2 separate regions of the Homo sapiens genome follow, and region 1 is linked to region 2. The links come from fine-mapping of genetic effects on plasma protein levels. Region 2 holds a variant in brackets. A gene starts in the other region. All regions are shown on their forward strands.

Region 1 (6,307 bases), not on the chromosome of region 2:
CCCCACATCTTTTCTGAGGACTGGGTGGTTCACAGGACTCAATGCTGCTGCTGCAGGTCTTCCCAGAAAGCACCCCTCATTGGCCTCTGAGCACGTGTGTCCACACCAGGAAGAGACTCCAGAGCTGATCAGAAGTTTTGTGGCTGCTGTGGGACCACTTCTCACCCTCACCCCTGGGAAATGGGCCTCAGCCCTGTGGCCTCATCTCCTCCTCCCCCTGAGTCATGTCACCTGATGGTTATCGGGACACAGCCGGAATGTGCAACTTCCGGCAAAAAACTCTCATGTTTTGTGGTTATTTTGCACCATTTTGTTTCTTCCTTTGGGTTTGTGGACAGGATGGGGTGAGCAGGATGGGCGTGGCAGGGTCTAAGTCCCCTGATCCCTTCTCCTTTGCAGTAAGTCAGGTGTTTCTCTATGTGCCTAAGGAGAATTGCATCCCATAGATTAAAGTGTAAAGCGCACTTCCTGTGGAATCCAATTTTCCTATTACCTTTCATCAAAAGTAGAGATATATTCCCTCAGAAAAAACTGACCTGAGGATGTTAAGGAACACTGACATTTCAGTATTTGTATAATCATAATAATATTTATTCCCACAGAGGAGCTGTCATTATTGACGTTTTACAGAAGCCACAGGCTTTGCTCAAGTTCATTCGGTGGTAAGTGGACAAGCCACGCCAGAACTTAGCCTTCTGCTTCTCTGTCTGGCCTGGACGTTCAAGATTGCAGCAGCGCCTTTTTGGTCATGGTTGAATCAAAAAATAATTTTTGAGAAACTTTGCAATGATCAGGCCACATAAGCCACCGAATATGACACATCTCCTGCATTTTTATGTTCAGCTCAACAGTGTCATGATCCAAAGTGTCTTGGATCTTTTTTTTTTTGAGACGGAGTCTTGCTCTTGTCACCCAGGCTGGGGTGCAATGGCACGATCTTGGCTCACCGCAACCTTTGCCTCTCGAGTTCAAGCGATTCTCCTGCCTCAGCCTCCCGAGTAGCTGGGATTGCAGGTGCCCGCCACATTTTTTTTATTTTTAGTAGAGACAGGGTTTTGCCACGTTGGCCCGGCTGGTCTCGAACTCCTGACCTCGTGATCCGCCTGCCTCGGCCTCCCAAAGTGCTGGGATTACAGGAGTGAGCCACCGCGCCCGGCCCGAAGTGTCTTGGATCTTAATGAGGTTTAGTTAATCTATGACTGCATCATCATGAAAATTTCCACAATGTCCACCAGGCTTTGTCATTGAATCTTCCAGCAGCAGAGCCCATAGGTCTCCTTGGCTTCCTGACACCTTCGTGGGCAAGGCGCCCCTGTGTTCAGAAGGAAGAGGAAAGTGACAAATTCCAAAAAGGGCCAGAGGGAAGGATATTCTTGGGATCCCATAGCTGGCACAGGGCTCCATGTGGGTGGACACTCTGAGCTTGGGGACTGCAAGCTCCCAGGTGACGCATTACACATTAGGAGTGGCATTTCCTGTGCCCACCTGGTCATTCTGTGCAAGCTGGGGCACCTACTCAAGGCACGTGTGTGAGACTGTGTGTGTGTGAGTGTATGTCACTGTGTGTGAATGTGTCAGTGTGTGAGTTTGTGTGTGAATGTGTGAGTGTATTTCAGTTGTATATGTAAGTGCGTTGTGTGAATTTGAGTGTTTCAATGTGTGAATGTGTATGTGTGTTTGTATCAGTGTGTGTGAATTTGTGTTTGTGTGTGAATGTGAGTTTGTGAATGTGTGTGGGTGAGAGTGCCTGTGTGTTTGTGTGTGTGTATATGTGTGTGTGCATGAACGTGTGTTTGTGAATGTGTGCGTATGTGTGTGTTTGTGAATGTGTGTGGGTGTGTGAATGTGTTTGTGTGAGTGTATGTGTGTGGGTGTGTGTGAATGTGTGTGTATGTGAGTGTGTTTGGGTGAGTGTGTGTGTATGTGAGAGTGTGAGTGTGTTTGTGTGTGTTTGTGTGTGGGTGTGTGAATGTTTGTGTGTGTGTGTGTATGTGCATGAACGTGTTTGTGAATGTGTGTATGTGTTTGTGTGTACGTGTGTGTATGTGTTTGTGAAAGTGTTTGTGAATGTGTGTGTGAGTGTGTATATGTGAGTGTATGTGCATGAACGTGTTTGTTTGTGAATGTGTTTGTGTGTATGTGTGAGTGTGAATGTGTGGGTGTGTGTGAATATGTGTGCATGTGAGTGTGTATGTGAGTGTGTGTTTGTGAATGTGTGTGGGTGTGTGAATGTGTGTTTGTGTGTATGCGAGTGTGTTTGTGAATGTGTGGGTGTGTTTGTGTGTTTGTGAATGTGTGTGGCTGAGTGTGTTTGTGTGTGTTTGTGAATGTGTGTGGGTGAGTGTTTGTGTGAGTGTGTATGTGAGTGTGTTTGTGAATGTGTGTGGGTGAGTGTGTTTGTGTGAGTGTGTATGTGAGTGTGTGTTTGTGAATGTGTGTGGGTGAGTGTGAGTGTGTGTATGTGAGTGTGTGTTTGTGAATGTGTGTGGGTGAGTGTGTGTGGGTGTGAGTGTGTATGTGAGTGTGAGCGTGTGTGTGTTTAGAGTCTGCACTCTGTGTGGATCAGGAAAGGGGTCCTTGCAGGCTCGCTGAGTCCCTGCTCTGTGCCCAGCCCCGAGTTGGCTCCAATGGGGCTATATAGAAAGGAAGGCATGGCCGGAGGACCTCTGTGTCAAGTTGAGGACACATTTCCAAGACTAGGAACCATTCAGGGACTCTGGAGTCACGATGACAACTCCCCTTCCCTCAGCCCCGAAGCCCAGGCCTGGACCTCCAAGGGACTCAGGGAAGGGACTCAGGAAAGGGGAGTTCCCCCTGGCAGCCTCCTCGTGGGCACCACCGAGGGTGAGAGGAGCCAGCTCAGCGGGTCCCACCCCCAGGGTTGCCCACCTTGACCACAAGGAAAGGAGGGAGGAGTTATTGGGCCTTCCACTAGGAGGAGACCCGGGGAAGTGAGAGTCGGGGATCAGTCCTGCAAGCTACGGAGTCACTACAGGGAGAGGTCTCATCACTAGAAATAGCCGAAGAACCTGCAGCCTCAACCAGCGTTAAGGAGGACGTGCCGTTTCTAGGGAGTCTTAGTCGGGGCTCACCAGCTTCCTGCATTTTCTGACCGGCTCCAGGAATAGAACCAAAAGAAGCTGAACAAGGAAGCAGCGCGGCACCAAGAAAAGCAGAAGTCGGGGCCTTGGAGGCGTGACTTTCCCCTCGGGTCCAGGTAGGGCCTGGAGCTGCTGCAAGTGCCGCCTGTGCTGGGGAAGGGACCATGTGGCTGCCTTGGGCTCTGTTGCTTCTCTGGGTCCCAGGTGAGAGTTTCCCTTCCCGGGAAAGTCTGCGGCAGGGAGGGAGGGTGCGAGGGGCAGGGCCGCAGGGCAGGTATCACACGAGACGCCCCGAGTCTGGACTCCGTGCAGAACGCAGAATGCGGTGCGCTCTGTCTACCACATAAGATGGACAGATGAAGGTCCACACCCCTGGGAGAGGAAGGAGCCAGGGCCTCTCCCGGCTCTGCACCCACGTACCTTGGCTGAACCACAGCGGGGCAAGTGATAAGGGGTGGGTGCAGAAAAGGGACCTTTTAGGTTTTCAGTTGAATTCTTACAGGAAGGGGGACGAGAGGCAGGATGTGTCAGGGTGGGTGGAGAGTGGCAGCCACTGACTGCGAGGGGCATGTGGTGAGGGTGGGGGAGATGCCGGGCTCACTGGGTGCAGGGTATGGAGGAGGGGGGTGTGGGGAGGGTGGGGGAGATGCCGGCCTCACTAGGTGCAGGGTACGGAGGAGGGGGTGGGGCGGTGAGGGAGATAGGGTCGGGGTGGGGAGCAGATCGATAGTCTCTGGAATGCGGAGATTTAACCAGGGCAGCCCAGCGGCTGGGGCCTGAGCAGGGGGAAGTCCCGAGGCAGCCTTGGCTGGGGTTAGCCCCTGCATGGGCCTGAGAACCAGGGGTCAGTCCTCTCCAAGAAGGGGATATGGGACAGAGGGGACAGAAAAGGTGGTGGGGAGGGCGAGGAGGGAAAAGATCGGGCAGAGAAGCGCTGAGATCTTCTTTAGGGAGAAGCGTGGAGTTGAGTCTTCCCTGTCCAAGCGCAGGGATTCCTCCCGCAGAGTCACCTGCTGTGCCTTCAGTCACGTCCACCGCTCTCCTCAGACAGCTCCTGTGCAGACTCCTCAGGCCTAGTCCTAGGGTATTGTACGTCTTTGTGGTTGCTTTCCTTACAGATCGGAGGTTTTCTGCAATTATATTTGCTAACTACTTGTCTGTGGGAAGGTTATTACTTTTGGTGTCTTGACTTGGAAACGGGTCATCCTCCCATAACAGGTGCTCCTGCGATTCTCTTGGGTGTTCTTCTGTTTCATAGGGTCGGTGTGCATGGGAAGGTTTCAGTTCCTGTCTAATATCTGTTTCTCTTTCTCCCATTGACTCATTGGCTGGTACAGCCGGAGTGAGGCCCAGCGGACATAGTGGTAGTGGTTGTCCCTGCCTTGTTGCTGACTCAGGGAAAAAGGACCAGAGCTTCTCATTATTAGGAAGAAGGGATCCACCAATGACTATTCACAAAGCATTTTTACTTTTATTTATTTATTTATTTATTTATTTATTTATTTATTTTTTGAGATGGAGTTTTGCTCTTGTTGCCCAGGCTGGAGTGCAGTGGCGCGATCTTGGCTCACTGCAACCTACGCCTCCCAGGTTCAAGTGATTCTCCTGCCTCAGCCTCCCGAGTAGCTGAGATTACAGGCATGTACCACCATGCCTGGTTAATTTTGTATTTTTAGTAGAGATGGGCTTTCTCCATGTTGGTCAGGCTGGTCTCAAACTCCCAACCTCAGGTGATCCACTCACCTTGGCCTCCCAAAGTGCTGGGATTGCAGGCGTGAGCCACCAAGCCTGGCCAACATTTTTATTTTTTTGAGACAGGGTCTCCCTCCGTCACCCAAACTGGAGTGCGGTGGTGCAATCACGGTTCACTGTAGCCTCCACCTCCCGGGCTCAAGTGATCCTCCCACCTCAACCTCCCCAGTAGCTGAGACTACAGGTGTGTGCCACCACACCCAGCTGGATTCTTAATTTTTTTTAGGGACAGGGTCTTACCATGTTGCCCAGGCTGGCCTCCACCTCCTGGGATCAAGGGATCCTCCCATCTTGTCCTCCCAAAATGCAGGGATTACAGGCATGAACCACCACACCTGGCCCCTACAAAACATTTTTTATTTTATTTTTATTTATTTTTTTGGAGACAGAATCTCACTCTATCACCCAGGGCTGGAGTGCAGTGGCTTGATCTCAGCTCACTGCAACCTCCGCCTCCCGGGTTCAAGTGATTCTCCTGCCTCAGCCTCTTGAATAACTGGGCTTACAGGCACCCACCACCACTGCTGGCTAATTTTTTTGTATTTTAGTAGAGACGGGGTTTCACCATGTTGCCCAAGGTGGTCTCGAACTCCTGAGCTCAGGCAATCTGCCAGCCTTGGCCTCCGGCCCCCACAAAATACCATTTTTATTATTTATAGAAATTATTATTATTATTATCCTTTCAGCTATGAAGGAGGTGAACTACATTAGGAGATCTGGTCAGATGTTTGTCTTGATTTATTATGCTGGCTTCATGGAAAGAATTAGGGAGATCTCCCTGTTTCCGTGTTCTCTGCAAATGTTTACATAAAATTGAAATTATTTGTTCCTTGAAGTTTTTAGAGAACTAGCTTGTAAAACTGTCTGAGTTTTGCTTCTTTTTTTTTGATGGAAGGGAAAGAATTTCTTAATAACACTCATCATTTTTGGTCTACATTAAAAAAAATCTAGCTGGGTGCAGTGGCTCACACCTGTAATCCCAGAATTTTAGGAGGTTGAGGTGGGAGGATAGCTTAAGCCCAGGAGTCCGAGACTGGCCTGGGCAGTATAGCAAGCAAGACCCCGTCTCTTAAAAAAAAAAAAAGTCTATTCTTGGCCTACATTGATGATTTATATTTTCCTAAAAAATCATCAGTGTCGCCCAGGTTTGCAGACTTATTTGCAGAGATTTGCAAATTTTTCTTTTGAATTTTATATCTGCGTCTTCTTTATTTTTGGTCTGACTACCTACTAGTCTAATTAATTGTTTGAGGCCAGGCACGTTGGCTCACGCCTGTAATCCCAGCACTTTGGGAGGCCAAGGCGGGTGGATCACTTGAGGTCAGGAGTTTGAGACCAGCCTGGCCAACATGGTGAAACCCCGTGTCTCCTAAAAACACAAAATTAGCCAGGCATGGTAGTGTGCACCCTGTAGTCCCAGCCACTCGGGAGGCTGAGACATGAGAGTCACTTGA
Region 2 (16,889 bases):
AGAAAAGAAAAAGAAAGGCTGAGGGACTCACCCGAAGTCATGGCAGTTGGAACAGTGCTCATGAAACCTAGAGGGAGAGGCCAGGTCCCAGGCTGTGCCACCTGCCATGGGTCTGGAACCCTGGGGCAAGAATGATTCTGGTGGGTCTGAGGATGATCTGGGTGGTCTGTGGATCCAGACAGCCCTGTCTGGTTTTCTTTCCTGCTATCTTTTCTATGAATGCCTATATTTTTCAAAACCACTGATGTCCTGCTGGGATGCAGACCAGCTAGCTTCCTTAGGACCACAGGACATCCCTGGGCCTCTCCCTTCTTTGATAGCTCAGTTCACTATTTCCTCCCTGGGCACAGCTGTGGGCCTCACATTCCTGTTTCCTTTCCCCTGGGAAATAGGAACAGGAAAATTGTTAGGGAAAATTGTCCAAGACTTGAAAATGGAGCAGAGATTCCTGCAGGTCCTTTGAGTCATGTCAGCCTTGGGCATTGTCTGGCAGGCCTGTTCAAGGAATTACCTGACTTTCTAGGGGTGTAGACCTTTGTCTAACTTGCTATTTACTACTCATTAGGTTATTTTACAACTTTATGACAAAGGCATAGGAAACTGATAGGGTGCAGACTTGTTTTATAGTGACACAAATAAAAGCATTTTAGTGAAAAGGCCAGGGAGGACACTCATTCTATTTTATGGGATGAAATATTGCCCCATAAAAAATTGTAAAAAAAAAAGAAAAGGGGAAAAAAGGCTAAGTCCGGGCACAGTGGCTCACGCCTGTAATCCCAGCACTTTGGGAGGCCGAGGTGGGCAGATCACCTGAGGTCAGGAGTTTGAGACCAGCCTGGCCAACATGGTGAAACCCCCACATCTCTACTAACAATACAAAAATTAGCCGGGCATGGTGGTGGGCATCTGTAATCCCAGCTACTCAGGAGGCTGAGGTGGGAGAATCGCTTGAACCTGGGAGGCAGTGGTTGCAGTGAGGGGAGATCACGCCATTGCACTCCAGCCTGGGCAACAGAGCAAGACTCCATCTTAAAAAAAAAAAAAGAAGAGAAAGAAAGTCTAAGGTTTTATATAAAGTGATTTAGCAATATTACTTTAATATTCTTTCCTTCAGTAATTGTAACTATTTTGATGTCTCCTACATTTTTTTTTAAACCAGCTCTTCCATCCTGCTGGTTCTCTCACTGATTAAATACTTTTTAGATACATGTTCATTCTATATTTGTGTGAAAGCCATGTTTTAAAATTTAATTTTGAAAAATTAACATCTGGCAAAGTTGAGGGTTTTCTTCATTTACAGTTCTATGAATTCTAGCCCATATATAGTTGCGTACCTGCTACCACAATTAGGATACAAAACAGGTCCATCATCCCCCTGAAAAACTCCCTTGGGCCATCCCTTACAACCATGTTTTTGACTTCTTGAAAATGACTCTTTCACAGGATGCAGAGGGTTGTCAGTGACTCGGGAGTTGTGGGTGTGCCCGTCTTATCAATCCCCACAGCCTTGCCTGTGGAGATGCCCTATCTGTCCCCACTCTGTCAAGCCCAGGGAAAGGCGTGGGGTCAGAGGATTTGGCTCTGTCACACCATTCACTGCCTGCCCTTCTTCCCAGCGCTTCCAAGATCTGGTTGTATTAAACACGAGAATGAAGAGAGGAAAACACCTTCGCCCACGGTGTGCTCTGGGGACATCTCCAGGTGTGGGTGGTGGCGTCAGCCACAGGACAGGTAAATAACCAAAGGGAACATGGGTACCCAAGTCAGATGTCCTCTTCGCTCCTTCCCTCAGGAGAACCTGCCTTTTCCTCACCAGGGAGCTGGCAACACCCAGGCTTCCCTGCAAGGGCGGGAGGGACATCGAGGTGCCGGATAGCCAAGGGAGCAGAGGAGGAAGGGGCTCTTCGAGTAAACTTGTTGGGAATTAAGATGTGCTGCTCTCATCGCCTGGGTGTTACTTCAGTTGGAGAAAAAAGAGGCTTCACCATTTGTCTTTGTGCAGTGTTATCCTCAGCAAAGAGGACTGGAAACGTGGTACATGGGAGGAGGGAGCCAGGGATGCGAGTGGCCAGCCACGCCCAGGGAGGGGGAGCGAGGCACAGGGATGTCTCCAGACAAAACCCCTAAATCACATGGAATCAGATACACATATTCTCTCTCTCTCTCTTTTTCACATTCTCTCTCTCTCTCTGTCACTGAGCTATTTTTCACTCAGCATTCAGAGCCTGTGGTATGTGTGGATACGAAGTAGGGCTTCAGGTCTTCATAGGTCTAAAGTCCATAATGCTGTCTCTAGTGCCCTCCCTTTAAAATGTATTTTATAGCCTTTTATTTGTCTTTACCAACGAATGGAAAAGCAATGAAGTCAGACTTTTTTGGGATTTGCTGCATCTAACCGGTGCCCTTGCCCTCTCCAGAGGCCTCCCTTTCCCTGGTGCGAGAGGCATGTGCAGGGCCTGGTAAGAAAAGGAGCCTTAGACACTGACTCCAGGGGTCCCTAGCCAGCCTCATGGGCTTTGTGACAATCCTAACACTTAATGGTGTGTTCTACTCTGACTTCCAAGTTCTCTTTTCTTAAATATGTGTCTTATCTAGGGTGACCGTGTGACTTTTAGCCTCCAAACCATGACATTCTTAAGAGTGAAAGGAGGTGGGAATAATAATTACTCTGGGACAATGTGTGTAAACTGGGACCGTGGCAGGCAAGCAGCGAAGTATAGTCACTCTTATCTTTCAGAGTAAATTGGGAACTTTTTCCATGAAGGGGCCCAGTCTGTCTATCTGTGATAAGATATACTTGGGCTTTGTCCCCAAGAGATGAGTGTCTTTTGTGTGCCAATGAGATGTCCGGTGGCTGGGGGTCCCTAGTTAGCTTCAGGATGGGGGCTGCTCTCCAGAAAGACCAAGGCAGGAGTAGAGGATTGGAACTTTCAGCCCTATCCTGGACCTCCTGGGAAGAGAGAGGGGCTGGAGATAGAGTCAATCACCAATGGCTAATGATTTAATCAATCATGTCTAGGTAATGGGATCTCCATTAAAAACTGAACAGTGAGGTTCAGAGAGCTTCTGAGTTGCTGAATACGTTGAGGTCCTGGGAGGGTGGCATTCCAGAGAGAGCGTGGAAGCTCCACACCGCCCCCTAGTACCTTGTCCTTTACATCTCTTCCATTTGCCTGTTTCTAACTTGTATCCATTCCAATAAACCAGTAATAGTAAGTAAAATACTTTCCTGAGTTCTGTGAGTCCTTCTAGCAAATTATCCAACCTGAGGAGGGGGTTGTGGAAACTCTTGGTTTATAGCTGATTGATCAGAAGTACTGGGGACAACCTGTGACTTTCGACTGGCATCCAAAGTGGAGCAGTCTCATGGGACTAAACCCTAAACCTGTGGTGTCTGCACTGACTTCAGGTCCAATCCAACATATTAATTAATCCTACATATTAATCAGGATGGAATGGAATTGTAGGATGCAATTCCTATGGAGAGTTGGAGACCACCTTGGAGTCCTCTTCCGCATCTAAGAGCTTTGTTAGGAGATGCTTAGTTAACACTGACTGATGGCTGCTTCTTTAAGGGGCTCTCTTCCTAAGAAATTTAACCCAATTGAAGTTTAGAGGGAGAAACTTCTTGGTTTAGTTCAAACACCTTATTATATGTTGGGCTGGCTTTGGTTGTTAAATATCAACTGTTGTGAATGAACACTAAGAGACCACAGGTGACTTGTGATGGAAGGAGACTCTTTCAGAGAAGCCAGCCAAGTTCAGGCAGCTGCAGGCCATGTTTGTCTAATAAGTCACAATTGTGTGGCAGAGACTCCTGTGACCCCAGTTGTGCTGGAGGCAAGAGCTAAGCGTTGGCATGCCCAGATGGGATTTCAGGTATCCACTCTGTGTGAAAACCCACTAGGACTCCTTGAAGAAATGAAGATAATTTTAAGGACTGACTACAGGATTCTAGGAGAGCAGGTTTACATGTCTAGGGGAAAAAAAATAAAGACAAAGGTGACTTTGACCCCTGAAGAATATGCTTGGATGGGCAAAAAAATCACTCCATGGTAGAATCACTGCGGGGAGTCTCTTGCACGTATCCCTGGGTGGTTGATGGTGGTTGATGGTTGATGACTTCTGACCCAGCCCTGGTGGAGGAATCTAGGAGGCCCTAAGAAAATGAAAAGAGCAGGAGTGGTCCTTTTGGAGCCTTATAAACAAGCCATGAAAACTGATCAGGAGAGACATCTCTTCCACTTCAAAGAGTTAGAAACTGGCCAGGCTGTGCCCTACCACATCCCAAGAAGCCCATACACATAATGGACACCAAAGAGAAATCTTTCCAGCAAATGGCAGCCAAGTGTTGCATCCTAAAGTCAGAATATCATGATGGTTTTCTGTTAGAGGAAGTCCAATGTCTTAAGGAAGGGCACTCTTTGGTCTAATTGGCACAGGGGCAATGGGGTAGTGTCAGCCCCAACATGGGGTAGTGGCAACCACGGTCAGAGTACACGGTGATGTCCTCACTGGGGAGTGACAGTGACTACACTGTATTGCTAGTGGCCAACACTAGCAGTGATGTATGGAGTTGGCAACATCACTGCTTGCCTTGATGATGGCCAGGCTGGTGCTCATGCAAAACCTGCTGCCGATCCCACTGAAGCACAGTGGAGAATAGCCCAGAGAGAAGTCCAGGAAGGCTTTATCAGCGGAGGCAGTGTTGATGAGATACTTGGGCCCTGCCAGGAGGAGGAGGAGGAGGGGACCATGGGGTAGGGGCCTAGGGTAAAAAATATTTCTATTCACACTGCAGTTGTGACTCAGTCCCTTAGGATGCTGTGACTGGGAAACTCACATTACACTGTGTATACACATACATTACACTGTAACCTCCACTTCCTGGGTTCAAGTGATTCTCTTGCCTCAGTCTCCTGAGTAGCTGGGCTTACAGGTGTACACCACGACGCCTGGCTAATTTTTTTGTATTATTTTTAGTAGAGACGGGGTTTTGCCTTGTTGGCCAGGCTGGTCTCGAACTCCTGACCTCAAGTGGTCCCCCTGCCTCTGCCTCCCAAAGTGCTGGGATTACAGGCATGAGCCACTGCGCCCAGCCCTGTATGATTTTTTTATGTGCAGCTCACATTCAAAATTACTGCTTGGCTTCTTTGGCGCAGAACCTCCCTTCTCCACCAGGGCCTCTCACTGGGTCTCAGTGGTAGACACTCTGGAGGATGCCTGCCTCACTCTTTGAAGTGAATTATTTTGGGTATCACCTTGATCCTAAATAAGGTCAGACAATCCCAATATGCTCTAAACATTTGTTCAAATCTTATTCAACTATTTTCATGTAGTATAATAAAATTTTATTAATATCTCTTGGTTTAATTCATGATCATTTTACATGTGGTGATATTGACTGAGTCCAAGCACTACCAACTCTGCCTTCGCTTTTTTTTTCAATTTTTAATTTTGAGGGTACATAGTAGGTATACATCCTTCATCATTGTGAAATTAAAATGTGTCTTTAGGCTGAGCACAGTGGCTCACACTTGTAATCCCAGCACTTTGAGAGGGTGAGGCGAGAGGATTGCTTGAGCCCAGGAGTTTGAGGCCAGCTTGGGCAATATAGAGAGACCTTGTCCCTACAAAAATATAAAAGTTAAAAATTAAAAAACAAATATGTCTCTTAGTGATTTTTTTCTTTTCTTAATTACATATTCACTGTAACAAAAAAGTTTGAAGTTACAGGTAGGCAAAAAGAAGAAAATTAAAACACCCCTAGTCCTATTCTCAGAGTTAGCTATTACTTACCACTTGATGTATTTCCCTCCAATCTTTTTCTGTATATGTACATGTGAATGTTTGTGTATAAAAAACTCACACACCTATAAAACATAAATAAGACATCCAGCTACCTCAATAACTGCATTATTCGTTTCTAATATGTATACTTTTTCACGTATTTGCCTATTTTTATTTCATAACCATCTGTTCTTATTTGTGATGGCTATTCTTTCATTTAGTTCCCTGAAGTTTTATGTATACATTTTAAAACCCCCTTCAAGATTGTCTATTATCTCTAGTTCCTTAAGTATAAATTTTCTTCTTTGGGGGGGTCTGAAAACTGCCTTTAGTGTTGTTGATCTTCCTTATAGGGTGTGTAATTCTTGCCTATGAGCTTGTCTTTCATGGGAGCCATCTTTCTTGGGACTTCTCCACTGTGTGGTCTGGGTTTTAGAAGAAGGATTCCGGTGAGGAGGTTTCAGTGTTGTCCTATGGAATAGAGCACTGACTTCAAACCAAGTCTATGGCTAGTGGACCAGGACTGTTGACTGTTTCCACTGATAGCTGGGCAGATGGCTTGTGTTCAGCCACAACCTTGGGCAGCCCTCTTCCTGAAGGGGTGGCATGGTCCTGCCTCCTGGACTCATGGCTTCCTGCTGCATGTGGGGCTCATGACGCATTGAAATTGCAACCACAGCTCATCCAGTCTGAGTCCCCTGTGGGTCTTCCGGCTTTAGCTCCCATTTACAGGCATGTTTTATTTTATTATACTTTGCTTTATTGCACTTTGCAGATATTGCATTTTTTACAAATTGAAGGTTTGTGGCAACCCTGCGTGGAGCAAGTCTATCAGTGCTATTTTTCCAACAGCACGTGCTCACTTCATTAGCATTTTTTAGCAATATTATCTTTTAATTAAGGTATGTACATTGTTTAGACATATGCTATTGCACACTTAATAAACCACAGTATAGGGTAAACATACTTTTATATGCACTGGGAAACCAAAAAATTTTTGTGACTTGCTTTATCATGATATTTACTGCGTGGTGGTCTGGAACTAAACTGGCACTATGCCTGAGGGATGCCTGTATGACTTTGTTCCTACTCTGTCCCTGGAGATTTCCCTTTCTTGCATGGAGCTTGGACATATCAATCTAAAATATATTTTTATATTTTATTAAGTTTTTCTATGCATTTGCAATAGGAGATGACAGCAGTAGGGGGAGTTCACCCTGTGCTCAACATGTTGACCTGAAATTCAATAGTAATTATCCTTACGTTGATTTGTGTTTGTCCTCCATACATCCAACATCTTCTTAACTACTTTAATTGCTTTGTCATTTTCTTCCATGTTCACTAGAATTATCTCAAGATTTTCCTGAGCTGGGAAAATTTCAAGCTTCCTTGATGTTTCTAATTTATCTAATAGCTCTATAAAGCTCTTGTTTTCATCCTGAATTTTTTTCCTTAGCTCTGAATTTCCTTTGCATTTCACTTGGTAGACTTATCAAGTCATCTTTGGGTTCTCGTTTTACTAAATTTCAAAAGCATATTAAATATTTTAAAATTAATTATATACCAAGTTAATACAAATTATTAATTGTTAAATTAATATAATTAACTATTAAATTAAAATGATTAATTAAGTATTATATATTCTTATTTGTTCTACAATGTGAAGCATTCTCAGGAGTTTTCTTCTGTACTTGGGAGAGAGATTTCTCCCAATCTAGATATCTGGATATGTTTATCTTTTTCATGTTGTGTTTCTTGCTTTTTTTGTTCGTTTTTGAGACAGAGTCTCACTCTGTCACCCAGGCTGGAGTTCAGGGGTGCAATTATGGCTCATTGCAGCCTCCACCTCCTGTGCTCAATTGATCCTCCTGCCTTATCCTCCAGAGTAGCTGGGACTACAGGCGTGCGCCACTACACCCTGGTCATTTTTTCTATTTTTCATAGAGACAGGGTCTCACTATGTTGCCCAGCCTGGTCTCGAACTACTGGGCTCAAGTGATCCTCCTGCCTTACCCTCCCAAAGTGCTGGGATTACAGGCATGAGCTGCCGCACTCAGCCTGTTTCTTGCTTATTTTCCTTCTCTTCTTTCTCCTACTCTGCCTTCTCCTTCTTGGTGTTCTTCTTTTTTAAAATCTAGTATGTTGGCTTAGCCTTCATGCTGTCTCTTTTAATTTTGCACAGGTAAGTCTGATCAGACTATCTAACGCTCTGAGAGTGTGAGGACGAATTCTTTTTGACACCTTTTCTAGCTACCTGTCATTTCCTCAATACTAGAGTTTGGGGACTGGGTGGTACTTCCTTCCTGCTTCCTGAGCTCTGAGGGTCACATGGACAGGTGAAGGACAGAGCTGGGCCTGGCTCCCTCCTGACGTGGGCTAGCATCCCACACCTGGGTCTGCTCCACTTGGCAGGCACATGTCCCCTCCTGGGACTTCAGCTCATTCCCTTGGACAGCACAGAGTTCTGAACAGCAGCAAGTCCAGCCAGCCACTCCTCCAGCCGCTGCTGGCTTCTGTGATGGTGCCCAGGGGCTCCTCCTCTCTGGAGCTTCTCCTGGACTCCCCAGGCTGCCTTTAGCATCTTGGCCCTCTTTGTGCCGAACTGAGAGGTGCTGGTGACCCTTCTTGGGATCCTGTTCTCTTACCTTCCCTCATTTGGCTTCAGCTATGTGTGTGGGAGAGAGACAGCTAACATTCCATTCTGAGACCCTCTATTTCTTCCCTCTTGACACCTTTTCAGTCTTATGTCATAAGGTTGTACTATTTTCCATGTGTGGTTGCCTCTGGTTAGCTTTTGACTTTTTTGTTTTTGTTTTGTTTTGAGATGGAGTTTCACTCTTGTCACCCGGGCTGGAATGCAATGGCACAATCTTGGCTCACTGCAACCTCTGCCTCCCAGGTTCAAGCAATTCTCCTGCCTCAGCCTCCCAAGTAGCTGGGACTACAGGCACCCGTCACCACGCCCGGCTAATTTTTGTATTTTTAGTAGAGCCTATTGTCCAGGCTGGCCTCAAACTCCTGACCTCAGGTGATCTGCCCGCCTCAGCCTCCCAAAGTGCTGGGATTACAGAGATGAGCGACTGCACCCTGCCAGCTTTTGACTTTTTTCAAAAAAATTATTCTTTGATCACCTTATGATGTGCCAGGGAGAAGGAGGGGTGCTTCTGGCCTCGCTTGTGCCACCCTTACCCAAAATCCAGGCACATGTGCTGTCGAGGCTCCACGCAAGACCCCAGGAACTCCTGGGTCTTTGCTACCGCCAGAGGGTTGCACCTGCTTCTCAGACAGAAGACCCCCGTCTCATGGTTTCTCTTTCTCAGGCCTCCAAACCCCTGGTTA[T/C]TTCATCTTTGAAATGAGTGTTTCATATGCAATTAACCTATGTTGAAACTTTACCAACTCTAAAGTGAAATTATACTTCCTTCCTACATCTAACTCTACCTAACCATAGAGTTCCCCTCCCGAGTATTTCTGAAAGTTTCCCAGGGACAGCTTTGCACAGCTCCAGAAAGTATCTCTCACTCTCACTCTACCCTTTTCTTCTTGCTGCCATGATTCTGCCTCTGTAGCTTATGGGACTGGCGACTTAGTGACTCTGCCAGGCCTTGGGAAGGAGACATTGCCCTCCCCAACCCCCCACAGCTCATCTGACCACAGGTTCCACTGAGTTGGGGCATAAAGAAAGCAGCCTTAGAAATTTCCATCTGCCTCCAGAGGAGAAGTGTCTTGTACCCAAAGGCCTCCATTTGGCAGGGGCCACTTTAGCTCCCACCAACAGCAATATACAGGCCCCCTTTCTCCACAGAGAGAGGAAGAAATCCCTCCCTTTCCAGCCCACAACACTCTTCCTTGCCTGCCTTGGGATGACAGACCATGAGGACACCCCTTTCTGTTAGGGGCAATCTCCCTCCTCCCTCCACACCTGAAGGTGTGGTCTGACCCTTTCCCCTCTGAGAAAATAAACCACCATCTTAGTGTCCAGTCTGAGTGTTTTGTTGTCAGAGCCTCAGGCCCGTCTAGGCAGCATTGTTCCCTCCCAGCGCATCGTTACAGCCTTTCCTCCAGCCTGAGGTGAGGAGAGGGTCAGGTCTTCCAACCTCTGGTAACCCCATCTCCCAGGAACAAATGTTGGACAACAAAGCACTCATGTCACCCAGGAGCCAAAGGGCAACCTCAACCAAGATTTTAAAAAATGGACACCTTAGAACATGTGTCTAATTTGTTTGGGGGCGGTTCTACCCATAAACACAATTAATGTTTCCTAACAGGACCCATAATGACTTTGCTCAGAATCACCCCACGTGGGCTTCCTCCAGAACAGCGGAGGCTTCTTGCCTCACAACAGGCGGCCTGCGAATGCTGCCCAACATGGTTAAAATGTGAGCACGCTGGCGGCTGACTCACAGGAAATGGTTCCCAAGGCTATGCCTGAGATAAGGCTGGCTTCTGGAGGCCTCTTTGCAGAGGAACCAATCCCACCCCAACTCCCTGATTGGATAATAAGACTCAGAAGCTCCAGTTCTCCCCTTCCTATGTGGCTTTGCAGGTTCTGTGTCTGACTGGACTGCCACTTTTCTCACGTACCTGTGGTCTGTGCTACAGAACATCCTAGCCACACAAGAAAGGTGGGAGCAGTGGGTGGCTTGAGGCCAACTGAGGTTTCAATCCAGTTCCTCTCCCCTGCCACCTGCCTTACCTGGTGCTACCTCTGCAAACACCACCTGCTGGGACAGTGTGGGTGGGAGGGGCTGGTGAGGAGGATTATTTCCTGTTACTGCCTTGGGGAAGCTGCTGAGGGCATTGCTCACGCCTTTGATCTGGGCATAGAAGGAAGCCACCTGCCCTAGCCAAGGTTTTAGTGCAATGACCAGATGAGAGGCTTCAGGTTACCTCGGGGCCCTGAGTCTGGAATCCAGAGTCACAGAGAATGAGGGAAAGTTGTGGAATCATTGGTGGAGACAGGATTGGAAACCTCTTGCAGCCAGAAAAATCACCATCACAGAGGGAGACTAGAAACCATCTCTGGGCCTGAACCTATCTTTGCTCCCGCCTTTCTTGTGCGGTCAGGTGGTTCTGGGACAGTAACCTCAGGCAGGTGAGAAAAGTGGCAGTGCAGTCAGACAATTCACAGAGGCCAGACGGGACAGGGAGAACTGGAGCTTCTGAGTCTTATTATCCAACCAGCCAGGCAGTGGGGGTGGGCTTCGCTCTTCTCTGCAGAGAGGCCTCCAGAAGCAACCTTATCTCAGGCACAGCTTATGAAGCTCTTTCCTGTGAGCCAGCCACCAGTGTGCTCAAATCTTAACAAACAGCATGACCTTTACTTAATAAAGGCCTGGGGGAAAGCCAGGGCAAGCGTTCCCACTTTAAAGTGCTTCATAAACGACGTGGCACCTGCAGTCACAAGGATGACATGATTAGCCTGCTGTCACCTGAGTCATTTTTTCCAGATGTGGTGAGGGGCAAGGCAGCCAGCTGGTGTCATGGAAAAAGCTCTGGATTCGAGTCTCGGTCAGATGTTGGCTACCCACTCAAACTGCTGCCGTGGCAGCCCTGCCTCCTTGCACGGCCGTTTCACATCTCTGATGTGGGAGATGAAGAGGGGTATGATCCATGCCTGGTATTTTGCAAACAGAATGCATGCATTCATAGATATGAGAGCACTGAAAAAACCCAAGCTCTTGATTCGGCAGCCAGACTGTGTAGGGGGATGTTCACTAGACTTGGTGTTTAAAGACTCAGGTAGGATCCAAGCTAATTCTATTTTTTTTTTTTTTTTTTTTTTTTTGAGACAGAGTCTCCCTCTGTCACCCAGGCTGGAGTGCAGTGGTGCGATTTCGGCTCACCGCAACCTCCACCTCCCGGGTTCAAGCAATTCTCCTTCCTCAGCCTCCCAAGTAGCTGGGATTACAGGCATAAGCCCCCAGCCTGGCTAGTTTTTTGTCTGTTTGGTTGGTTGTTTTTGTTTTTGTTTTTGTATTTTCAGTAGAGATGGCATTTCACCATGTTGTCCAGGCTGGTCTCGGACTCCTGACCTCAAGTGATCCGCCCACTTCAGCCTCCCAAAGTGCTGGGATTATAGGTGTGAGCCACCATGCCCAGATGGATCCAAACTAATTCTTAGTCATGTAAATCTAAGCAAGTGACTTAGTGTCTCCGGATCTCAGTTTTCTCCACTGTGGAATGGAATGGTTATAATCACCCTGCACCCGGCTCTCCTGAGAGGTAGATGAAATCAGATGGGGATGCATGGGAAGTGCTGTGGGGGCGGCGTACTCCGATGTTATTTGATGCTGTCTAAGGTTAAGCCTTCTTATTTGGGCTACTAGGGCAGAGCCCATCTGGGCCTCCCAAGTCCATTCTCTTTCAAGAGAAGAGAGCAGCTGCCAGTTGCCCTGGTAACCCAGACCAGCAGCAGGCTTCCTGCAGGGACTTTCCTGCCCTGGCACAGTTGTCAGTTTCCCTTCTCAACCTTAGCTGAGGCCGAAAGTGTGGTGGAGACACAGGTTTCTCAAGCAGGGCCCTCAGCAGAGCACACCGTGCCCACTGGCATTATTGCCACAACTTCTCCTTGCTTTGTGGAAGAGAATCTGGTTACACATCTTACTGGTTTTTCTGCTTTCTTTCTGTGACTCATCATGTTTGTGAATATTTCAGGTAAACACTTGGAGGGGGCAGCCTTCTTGGCTCAGTTTTCTGCTCTCTGTGTTCTCTGTGCCAGGCTGGTGACCCTCCTCTCTGTGTCCAGCCCCCTGTCCCCTGGAAATAGGTAAGGCATCTGAGATTGCTGGCTGCCTCGTCTGTCTTCAGCCAGGACCTGAGGGGTTTGTCTCTGTAGCAGTGGAGTTCATTCACTGCTATCCTTTGTGAAGAGTGGAAGCTGCCCATTTCTCCCCTGCCCTTCCTGACAGGAAACTAGCACTGGCTGAAATTTCTCCAGGGCTGACCTGCCTCTCGGTGTCCTGGTCCCATGTTCAATATAAAAGTCCTATGAATCGCCACAGTCTTCAGGAGTAACACTTCCTATTCCCAGAAAGTCAGGACCAGCCTGGGAGGACTTCGCACCTTCCTGGGATTTGCTCTTTTGACCATCCCCTATCTGTTTTCCTGTAATTATCTGCTGTGAAACTTACAAAACTAAAATGCCATGAGTGCTTATCTACGGGGCAACCAAAAAAGAGAAGGCCTTGAACCTGAGTCCCTCTGTACATGTGGGTTTCTATGAGGGGTGGGTAGGCACTGCCTGATGAGGGGGCAAGAAAGCCTAGAGCTGACAGGGCACCAGGGAGGGGCCGAGGAGCCTGCCTAGCAAGGAGACCTGTGGGCGAGTCCCTGATCTGTGCCAGCCAGGAAGTTGTAGAAGGCAGGGAGCAGTTGCCATGCTTATGTGATTCTTGTAGGAGTGGTCCCTGAGATTAGTTGGAAAGGCCCTTTATCAAGGATCGGAGCGCTATCCAAACTCTTGGTTCACAGGAATAATAAGTGTAAAAGCATGTAACATCCCTCGTAGCTGTCCTTTATCGACGTTTCCTCTGTGCCCTGCCTTATCTCATGCTCATGTTAAACCTGGGAGGTGGTAGTTTTATCATCACCATTTTACAGAAAAGGAAAACCAAAGAGCAACCACGTGGGCTAGGAATGTCGCATCCGAGTGGCTTTTACAGAAGCGTGCTAGATGCCAGGTGCCCTGCAAGGTGCTTTCCCAAGTACCATCTGGAATCCTCAGAAGAGGTCTGTGGGGTAGGCTCTATTATCCCTGCTTTATAGGTGAGGCCCATAAGGTCTGCAGAAGGTGATGTGCCCAGGGTGTGAGTGCAAGTCTGTCTGTCAACCCCGCTGCAGCTTTCTGCAGCACAGAAAGCTGGTCCAGCTCTTCAACTGGTTAGAAGGCTGGTTAGAAATCAGCCACAGGTCCCTGTCACATCCCAGACCATCACAGACCTCCGTGCTGCTGGAGGATGGCAACCTGCTCTTGACTGGCTCTCCCACCCTCTAATCCCTAAGCAGGCCTGAGAGAGAGGAAGGAAAAGGGAACACCTGGCCCAACAAGGGGCTTGGACCCGGGTCACCTGTACCTACCATGTTTACTTGCACAGTCTCCTCACCTTCTGTACTTATTCTGAGGGTGCATGAGCTTGGCCATTATAAACCAAGGAGACAAACTTATTTATTAGCTGCTGTGAGTCCTACTCTGTGCCTTTCCTGCTCACAAAATCTCTGTGAGGCAGAGAGCAATCCCCATTCCACAGAAGCAGGAATTGAGATAGAGGGGTCACGAATGAACCTCCCGGGTTCAAGCAATTCTCCTGCCTTGGCCTCCCGAGCAGCTGAGATTACAGGCATGCACCACAATGCCTGGCTAATTTTTTGTATTTTTAGTGGAGATGGGGTTTCACCATGTTGGCCAGGCTGGTCTCGAACTCCTGATCTCAAGTGATCTGCCCAACTTGGCCTCCCCAAAGTGCTGGGATTACAGGCGTGAGCCACTGCACCCAGCCGAGGTTCATTCTTACACTTAATAAAAATACACATATCAGACAGTCTGCTTGATGATTTATATTTTTTGTAGCTAAGGTCTTGTCAGATCTGAGTAGAGCATCATGTTTTTCAATAATCACAAGAGCTAGCTTTTATTAAGGGCTTACTGTGTCCAGTGCTGTTCTAAGCATGTCACATACTGTATTAATTCACTTAATCCTCACAACTGCCCTCTGAGGTGGCAACTATTATTATCCCCATTTTGCAGATGAGGAAACAGAGGCCCAGGGAGGTCAGATAACATGCCCATATAGCTAGAGAGTGGCAGAGCTGGGGGGAACCCTGTCGGTCTGGCTCCAGAGCCCATTGTATAGCAGCCACCTCTGCCCACCCTGGCCTGGCTAGGCCTCAATGCCAGAAACACACCATTCTCTATCTCCTGGAGGGTAACAGAGCTGCCATTATCCCAGGAGGCAAGGCTGTCCCAAGAGCATAGACCAGTAGTAGGGTTGGTTGCCAGCTTCTAGGTGTCGCCTCAAGGCTCCTTGCTGCTTCAATTATTATTCTAATAGTTCTGAGCTAGGCATGAGGTAATCTGAGCTTTTAGACCTTGGCTATTTCACTGAGGTTTGCTGTGAGGCTTCAGTTTTGTCATCTAAAACAGCACTGTCCTTCTAGAGTTGCTGTGAGGACAGGAGAGGAGTCTGCCAAGCACTTAGCAGGGGCCTGGAGGGCAGAAAGCATTCAGTGATGGGGAGGAGAGGAAAGCTCACAGAGCCTCGGTCCACGTGGCTCAGCTCTGTGCTGGAGCTGCGATGCGGTCAAAAGACCATGAAACAAAACGTGATTTCAAAATAACTCAAGTCTTTCACGTGTGTTTCTCACACCGATAAGTGAACGTAGTCCTTCGTTAGACTGCACTCGATTCTCACGGTGGCCATGTGAGAGGCACAGTTCTTCTTGCACGTCCCCCTCCGTCTTCTCCCACACATGGCTCTCACTTGCTGCAGGGGCTCCCGGTCTGGCTCTCAGTTTCCGTTTCCTCTGATTTTTATCTCACAAATGGCTGGCAGGGCGGGGCTCCTTCCTTGGAGGGTGGGCTCCAGGAGGAACTGAGGAGAGTGTAACCAGGACCCTCATTAGGGGCCATGGGGGTGGGAAAGGTTGGGAACTCGCCAGTCATTTTTATCCCATCACATGAATTATTATTTTTGGCAGAGGAGAAGGTGTCTGTGTTAGTACCACAAACTGTGGCTTAAAATGACAGAAATCTATTCTCTTACAATTCTGGAGGTTAGAAGTCAGAAATCAAGGTGGTGGCAGGGCCATGCTCTCTCTAGAGTCTCTAGGAGAGGGGCCTTCTGAAAAAAGAAAAACTTCAGCTGAATTACATTTAAGAGTTTAATTGAGTTTAATTAAATGAACAATTTGTGAATCGGACAGCCCCCAAATCAAGCGTATTCACAGAGACTCCGGCGCAGCTACATGGTGGAAGAAGATTTATAGACAAAGGGAAATGATGTACAGAAATTGGAAGTGAGGTACAGAATGACCGGATTGGTTACAGCTCAGTGTTTGCCTTATTTGAACGTAGTTTGAACACTCAGCAGAGTATGAATGGTTGAAGTATAGCCTCTGGGATTGGCCAAGACTTAGTTATTGTTACAGGCGCATACTCCTAAATTAGGTTTTCAATTTTGTCTGACTATTAAGCTAGGTTACAGTTCATCCACAAGGACTCAAATATAGAAGTACAGAGTCCTTCTCAGGACATATATAGTTTGCTTTAACACTTCCTTGCCTCTTCTAGCTTCTTATCGTTCCTGGCATTCCTTGGCGTTTCTTGCCTTGTAGACCCATCATATTCATTTCTACCTCCATCTTTATGAGGTCTTTTCCCTGTGTATTTGTGTCCAAACTTTCCTCTTCTTATAGGGACACCAGTCATTGGATTAGGGACCACTCTAGTTGAGTATGACTTTATCCTAACTTGATTGCATCTGCAAAGACTATTCCCAAATAAGGCCACATTCACAGGTTTGGGGGCCAGCATATATCCTTTGGGGGAACATAATTCAACCCAGCCTGTAACAATGTCATATCATTCAGATTGATTCTGAGCTAGCCCATTCCCAGTCTAACATCTCCAAACCTGGTTCCCCTAGACCCTTGAGCTTGTCTGCGACTCTTGTCCAAATGAAGCTGTGAGGCGAGCTGCCCTGCTGACCAATGGCAGGGCCTCCCTTCTGGCTCCAGGCTCTGCACTGAAGTGCAATGGGCCAACCAGGTACTTGCCCAATGCCATGGGTGAAGCCAAGGAGGGCATAGCCAGTAGGAAATATATTCTACAGAAGTGATCACTTTTCAGTTTAAAAAAAAAAAAAAAAAAGGCCGGGCGCGGTGGCTCACGCCTGTAATCCCAGAACTTTGGGAGGCCGAGGCGGGTGGATCACGAGGTCAGGAGATCGAGACCATCCTGGCTAATACGGTGAAACCCCGTCTCTACTTAAAAAAAAAAAAAAAATTAGCCGGGCGTGGTGGCGGGCGTCTGTAGTCCCAGCTACTTGGGAGGCTGAGGCAGCACAATGGCGTGAACCCGAGAGGCGGAGCTTGCAGTGAGCGGA

Direction of the effects. Positions count from the first base shown, and alleles are read on the strand shown. Strength reflects both the effect of a copy and how common the allele is.
As copies of C replace T in region 2, the plasma level of the protein whose gene starts at base 3,196 in region 1 goes up (moderate association).

Evidence for each region. A credible set is the group of variants that fine-mapping cannot tell apart. PIP is the posterior inclusion probability: the model's chance that the variant is causal. The UK Biobank Pharma Proteomics Project read protein levels with antibody pairs (Olink). The fine-mapping took linkage between variants from a reference panel, not from the people measured, so its PIPs are less certain.
Region 1: it holds the start of CD300A, and the variant in region 2 is the best candidate, but not a certain one, in a credible set for the plasma level of the CD300A protein (UK Biobank, PIP 0.61).

The regions. Positions count from the first base shown.
Region 1 is chr17:74,463,439-74,469,745 of GRCh38, forward strand. CD300A (CD300a molecule) reads left to right here and starts at 3,196. Exons shown (of 7, transcript NM_007261.4): 1 at 3,196-3,305. The coding sequence starts at 3,266. It overlaps LOC124904056 (a long non-coding RNA gene), which reads right to left and starts at 4,336. Exons shown (of 2, transcript XR_007065899.1): 1 at 4,112-4,336; 2 at 570-1,312. RefSeq lists silencers at 3,688-3,747, 3,788-3,847 and an enhancer at 4,208-4,337.
Region 2 is chr2:62,294,716-62,311,604 of GRCh38, forward strand. No RefSeq gene overlaps it. Among named protein-coding and RNA genes, the nearest start is that of MIR5192, 97 kb to the left of the region's middle. RefSeq lists enhancers at 8,338-8,417, 8,488-8,557, 10,569-11,096, 11,097-11,622, 11,188-11,257 and 4 more. The variant T/C (reference allele first, on the strand shown) is at 9,130.